Linked DNA regions of Homo sapiens. The protein of the gene in region 1 purifies or fractionates together with the protein of each later gene. This does not show direct contact. Each region holds a gene or a part of one and is shown on either strand. Other genes may lie near its edges. The genes, in order: KEL and SLC16A10.

Evidence for each region.
Region 2: the proteins of KEL (region 1) and SLC16A10 purify together in Homo sapiens (affinity purification with mass spectrometry; one large-scale study listed by BioGRID and IntAct). This does not show direct contact.

What each region holds. Positions count from the first base shown.
Region 1 is NC_000007.14:142,942,944-142,945,644, reverse strand, and holds part of KEL (kell blood group glycoprotein), read left to right. Parts: intron 1-903; coding exon 904-1,002; intron 1,003-1,244; coding exon 1,245-1,322; intron 1,323-1,761; coding exon 1,762-1,862; intron 1,863-2,048; coding exon 2,049-2,159; intron 2,160-2,301; coding exon 2,302-2,369; intron 2,370-2,600; coding exon 2,601-2,701. UniProt on the Homo sapiens protein: Zinc endopeptidase with endothelin-3-converting enzyme activity. Cleaves EDN1, EDN2 and EDN3, with a marked preference for EDN3.
Region 2 is NC_000006.12:111,219,759-111,223,584, forward strand, and holds part of SLC16A10 (monocarboxylate transporter 10), read left to right. Parts: intron 1-2,244; coding exon 2,245-2,477; 3' UTR 2,478-3,826. UniProt on the Homo sapiens protein: Sodium- and proton-independent thyroid hormones and aromatic acids transporter.

The DNA.
Region 1 (2,701 bases):
AAAAAAAAAAAAGGAAAATTGAACACTATCATCTCTAAGTCTCCTCCCTGTTGTAGCTAAGATTTTTTTAACAACACATGACGTGACATCAGAACAGATGACATAATCTTGAAGAGGGCAAATAAATCAAATAAATCACCACTGAATACTTTCTGAGTACCTACCACATGCCTGGGACTCCTTCAAGAACTTTGCATGAACTACGTCATTTAGTTCCTATTATGATCCTGATTTTATACAAGAGGGAACTGAAGCAAAGAGAGGTTAAGTGACTTGCCCAAAGTCACACAGTTACCAAAAAGCAGAGACAGGGTTTGAACTCAGGCATTCTGATGCCAGAGCCCAGGCTCTCGATATTGCCTTTCATTTTCCTCCAGGAAAGGATTTACATGAGATGGCAGGTGGCTGGGGAAGCAGTGAGTACACACTCACGTTGTGAAGGCAGGGAGACTTGTGGGGGACTTGCTGGGAAGCTGAAGAGCTCAGGAGGATGAGGAGAGGGAGTGGACGGTTTAAAAAAGACAGTGTGAGAACAAGAGCCCTGAGCCAGAGGAGAAAATGACAGCCCTCTCCTCCCTCTGATTTCTGAGAGGTGTTCCTGCCCCCAGGAGTGAGGACACTGTCTTTCTCCTGTGTCAGGCTATTTCCCCATGGAAAGGAACTATATCTCCCTGATGGCCCTCACGGATGGCCAGGCCCCACCTTCCCTTTGTGGGCTTGGCACTGCCTTCCTTTCTCCACAGATCCTTTAGTTGCTTTAGTTGAGCTGCTCCTCTAGCAGCAGCTCCAGCCCAGGCAGCTCCTTGGGGCCAAGCCCTTTTCCAAGGGTCAGAAGCTGTGGGCAGGGCCAGGCTGAGGCCTCTCCTGATCCTGTCCCCCTGTCCCTGGACCTCACTCCCACAGGCCATGAAATTATTCACTGCGATCCGGGATGCCCTCATCACTCGCCTCAGAAACCTTCCCTGGATGAATGAGGAGACCCAGAACATGGCCCAGGACAAGGTCAGGCCAGGCGTCCTGGCTGGTGTGGGAGCCTGTGCAGGGAATGGAGTATTGGAACAAGCGAGATGGGGATTGGAAGCAAATGCCAAAGGCCCCCCCAGGCACATGCTAAGTAGGGAAGCCACTGGGCTGTATACTCACACTGGCAACAATGTGAGAGGCTGGGACAGGGCAACGAGTGGGAGAAATTTCCTCTGGTAGACTCGGAGAGTATTCCTAGCCTCTTCTGTGTCTCTCTCCAGGTTGCTCAACTGCAGGTGGAGATGGGGGCTTCAGAATGGGCCCTGAAGCCAGAGCTGGCCCGACAAGAATACAACGATGTGGGTCCCTGTGTTTTCCAGCTCCTTTTCAGTCCTTGACTTCTCGTCACTTCTCTGACCCTCCTAAGTCTTTGTTGGACAATCAGTTTTCCCTGGGTGACTTAGCTCTGTCCTTACTCTGGTGCTGGCTGGGGTTGATGGGGAAATATCCACACTGTACGTCTTGCTGGCAGAAGAACAGAATCTTTTCAGGTCCCAACGCATGTGCCAACACACATGCATGCATCCTGTGACTTGTCTGGGCGTGTTCATCTGTGTGCTGATATGTGTAAAGCCTGGGTGTGCTGTGTAGTGATGCCATTGGGCTGCTCTCTCCTAATCCCTGGATGCCTGCCTGTCAGGGCTTGCCTGTTTGGGGTCAAATGGTCCCATTGGTGTTTGTCAGCGTGCATCTATAGAAGTCTCTGTGTGCCCAAGTCACCTCCTGCCTCTTCCCCAGATACAGCTTGGATCGAGCTTCCTGCAGTCTGTCCTGAGCTGTGTCCGGTCCCTCCGAGCTAGAATTGTCCAGAGCTTCTTGCAGCCTCACCCCCAACACAGGTATGACAGCAGGGGAGACACAGGCACTCCATCCCAGAGAGACCCATCCATGATTCACAGGAAAGGAAGCCAGGGCTCAGGGCAGGCAGCATGAACAGTAATGGTAGTTGGGAGGGACTGTGTAGGTCTCAGGGTGGCAGGGCAATACGTGGTGGGGGCTGGAGTTCACATGTCCTCTTCCCACAGGTGGAAGGTGTCCCCTTGGGACGTCAATGCTTACTATTCGGTATCTGACCATGTGGTAGTCTTTCCAGCTGGACTCCTCCAACCCCCATTCTTCCACCCTGGCTATCCCAGGTATGGGTCACTCTGTAAGGGTAGGTAGGGAGTTTCCCAAGAGGGGCCGACAGGTGTTATGATGGATGGGACTTACGGTTGGAGAATTGGGGTCACAAATGCTGAGAGATTCTGGGGGTCAAATAAGCCCTTGTCTCCCTAGAGCCGTGAACTTTGGCGCTGCTGGCAGCATCATGGCCCACGAGCTGTTGCACATCTTCTACCAGCTCTGTGGGTAACAGGGGCCACTGGGAGGTGGGATAATAGGGAACCTAAGGGAAGACCACAAGGGAGGCCTGGAGGGGAAAGGGAGGTTATTTGAGGGTTTGAGGTGGGGCAGTCCTGGGAACTTTGCCATGCTCCTGGGAGCTGATTCAGTCTGTGGTACCACCCACATCCTCACCTAGGCAGCACCAACCCTATGTTCTCTTGCTGTATGTTCTCTTGTCCCATTTTCAACAGTACTGCCTGGGGGCTGCCTCGCCTGTGACAACCATGCCCTCCAGGAAGCTCACCTGTGCCTGAAGCGCCATTATGCTGCCTTTCCATTACCTAGCAGAACC
Region 2 (3,826 bases), on another chromosome or scaffold:
TTATGCTAAGTGAAAGAAGCCAAACATAAAAGGTGACGTGGCTGGGCATGGTGGCTCACACCTGTAATCCCAGCACTTTGAGAGGCCAAGGCAGGAGAATCATTTGAGCTCAGGAGTTCCAGACTAGCTTGGGTAACATAGCAAGACCTTGTCTCTACTAAAAATAAAAAAAATTAGCCTGGCATGGTGACACATACTAATATTAGTGTAGTCCCACCTACTCCAGAGGCGGAGGCGAGAGGATCTATTGCGCCTGGGAGATCAAGGCTGCAGAGCCGTGATAGCACCACTGCACTCCAGCCTGGGTGACAGAGTGAGACCCTGTCTCAAAATAAAAGGTCATATATCGTATGATTTATTTCATGTGAAATATCCAAAATAGGTAAATTCATACAGATAGAAAACTGGTGACTGCCAGGGGCTGGAGAGAAAGGGATTGGGAAGTAACTACTTAATTGGAATGAAGTGTCCTTTTGGCATGATGAAAATATTTTGGAACTAAATAGAAGCAGTGGGTGCAAAACATTGTGTATGTGCTAAATGCCACTGAATTGTTCACTTTCAAATGGTTAATTCTATTTCATGTGAATTCCACCTCTAGAAATTCTCTGAATGATATTATAAAGATGTCCTATGTTCAGTATTACTTGGGTGCCTGTGTCAATTAGTATTAGAAGATTCAGTATAAATATGATAAAATTTAAATGTGTGTACTGTCATCTGTGTTTGGCACATGAGGTGCTCAGTGAAGGTTTAGCTCAATTCATTCTCATACCCTGAACTGTATTCCTAGTCATGAATCAAGCAAGCAGAGTTACTACTGAGCAGACCAAATCCAGTTTAAGTTCAAAAGGTCATGGTCTCCTTATAGGAGAACCCTCCATTCCTTCTTCTCTCCCGCAGGTAATATAGTATTCACTCTTCTTTCTATAGCCTACAAGCTTAGTTTTATAGTTTCTAAGTCCACAGCAGATTTTATATAAGCAGCACTCTAGTAGTAAATAGTTTTGCTACCAGAAGTGACAGTTAACAGAGCAAGAATAAGGGAGGTAACAGGAAACTTCTAAAGCAGGCAGAACACCACCACACAGCAACTGGCAGCAGAAAGCTGCTGGCTCACCAGGAGGCTCTGAGGGCATCATAGTATTACAGCAGAACATAATCATGAGTGTTCATAAGGAGGAAGAGTTCAGGAATGGTCTGATTCCAAAGATAGAAAACTTGTGCATTTACAGATATTGTCTATTTTATATATGCAGAATGGATGTACACATTTTTATGTGTTGGTACTTAATTGGACAAATGGTCAGCTATTTATTTAACAATGTCAGATAGATATTTAGTACAGTATATTCCCTGGACATTTTAGATAACTTAGGTTTTATAGTATAAGTTATAAGAGTTTAAAAACACTAAGATAACTTTTAAAACCATGAGTCCTGGAATTTGTTAGAGAAATTAGAAATGTTGAGTACCGTAAAAGTTTTCAGAAGCAGAACCCGAATATAGAATGCCATTAATAATTCTTATATACTTACATTTTCTTCCAGGTACTTATAAACCTTAGTCTATTTCCAAAATGTATTTAACAACCTAACTTTCATCCAAATTATTAAATTTAAAATTTTTCTTAATTTTGAATTATGATGTTAAATAGTTTTCATGTTATTTCATAAAAAACAAATACACCAAAGAGTAGTTTGAAAGCTGGGCATGGTGGCTCATGCCTGTAATCTCAGCATTTTGGGAGGCTGAGGTGGGAGGATTGCTTTAGCCTAGGAGCTTGAGACCAGCCTGGGTAATGTGACAAAACCCCATCTCTACAAAAAATATAAAAATTAGCCAGGCATGGTAGCATGCACCTGTAGTCCCAGCTACTCAAGAGGCTGAGCTGGGAGGATCAATTGAGCTTGGGAAGTCAAGGCCTGCATGAGCCATGATTATGCTACCGCACTCCAGCCTGGGTGACACAGTGAGACCCTGTCTCAAAAAAAAAAAAACGTCTACCTTTCTATCTTTTCAAGTAATGTCTTGGTATGAAAATCCAGAGGACTGTACTTTATGACAACGTTAAAGATATGAGATCTTTTTCTTCCTATCAAAAAGGGTTTATATTTCAGATCTGTTTCCTAAAAAAAAAAAAAAGTCTGATGTCTGAGATGTCTGAATCAGTCCTGTGGCTGATCTAGACCCCCTACAGAGCCACACTTGTTCTCCCTTGGTGACAGCTTTTTCCCTTCTCAGGGTTACTTCGTGACAAACTGGGCTCCTATGATGTGGCATTCTACCTCGCTGGAGTCCCTCCCCTTATTGGAGGTGCTGTGCTTTGTTTTATCCCGTGGATCCATAGTAAGAAGCAAAGAGAGATCAGTAAAACCACTGGAAAAGAAAAGATGGAGAAAATGTTGGAAAACCAGAACTCTCTGCTGTCAAGTTCATCTGGAATGTTCAAGAAAGAATCTGACTCTATTATTTAATATCTTACATACCTCCACCAGACTGGACTTGCTTTTTGAATTTTAAGCAAGTTTCCTTTCCTTTTATACAAATTGCAAATTTCATATTTTTTTAATCACATCCTAGGAATAGCACAATAATTGGGAAATAGAACCCTTATCACTAGAAGAACCATTTTCTGCCACTAAATATCTCTGATGTTTCCATGAGTCTGAGGGCAGAGACTCTGGTATATGAAAACGTCTGAAAGTCACATATTGTGAAAATTTGAAGCTATCTCAGTAAAAAGCAGCTTTGGAAACTGTGAATGATCTTTAGCTTGTACAAATGTTTAAAAATACCTCAGGCTATACTGAAAGGGTTGCAGTTTGGTTAGGAGTGGAAATATTTTGTTTGTTAATGATGTCTTCAGTTCTGGTACCTCTGTTTTACTTTCTTATGCTCTTTGGAAACTTTTTGCAAAATTTAAGCCTGGGTTCTAGATAATACCAGATCTACCTAAACCTCAAGTCTATGTTAAAGTTGCTTTCCTGCTGTTAAATAAGCTATGATATTAAGATATTCTGACTTGCTCCAGTGTCAAGGGACCTTCTGGGAGCAGGTGCTAACATAGTGTTCAGAATCAATATGTGAGATGAAAAGGATCCCCTCCAGGAGGATCCTGAGCTGTTCAGAAATCATTTAAGTTTACAGCGTTGTTCCCTTTGCGTTTGCAGTGCGTTTTACTCAAGTAGCCAGAAACACCCCACGTTTCTGAATTTGTTTAAACTGTAACAATAAAGTAAAATAGAATGCATGAAAGATATTCTGGCGATTGTAACTTAGAATTTTTCTGACTTCTGGATTTGTTGGCACTAGAACCTGATATTTAAAGTCTTACTGAGCAGCTATCAAGTGGCAGTTACAGGCACAAATTGGTGGAGGCTGGAGGATGGGGAGGGGAGCAAAACCCTTTATATTTGTGAAGAAAATATCTGTAGCTGATAGAAATAATTGCTTAAATTGGTTTATGAAATTAATGAGTCTGAAAAGGTTAAAAGCACTTATAAAAAGAACCAAGTCCTACATTTCCAGAACTTTCTGGCAAAAATTTGCACTCATATTATTTATCCTATGAACATTCCCATTGTTTTTTTTTGCTATTTATATACAGATTATCATAAGAAAGCTCTCAGTTTGAGGACCCAAAATAAAACCAAAGTCATGCCATGACCCATACTCATTTACAAAAACAAGAACACTTTCCTCTATCCCTAAAATTATGCTTTAGTACTTGAGGCCTTTAAAAGTTAGTGCTTTTGATTGTGAAGACATTCAGCAACTTACTTTGTCATACATGCAGTTGCACCTTACCACTTCTAATAGTGTC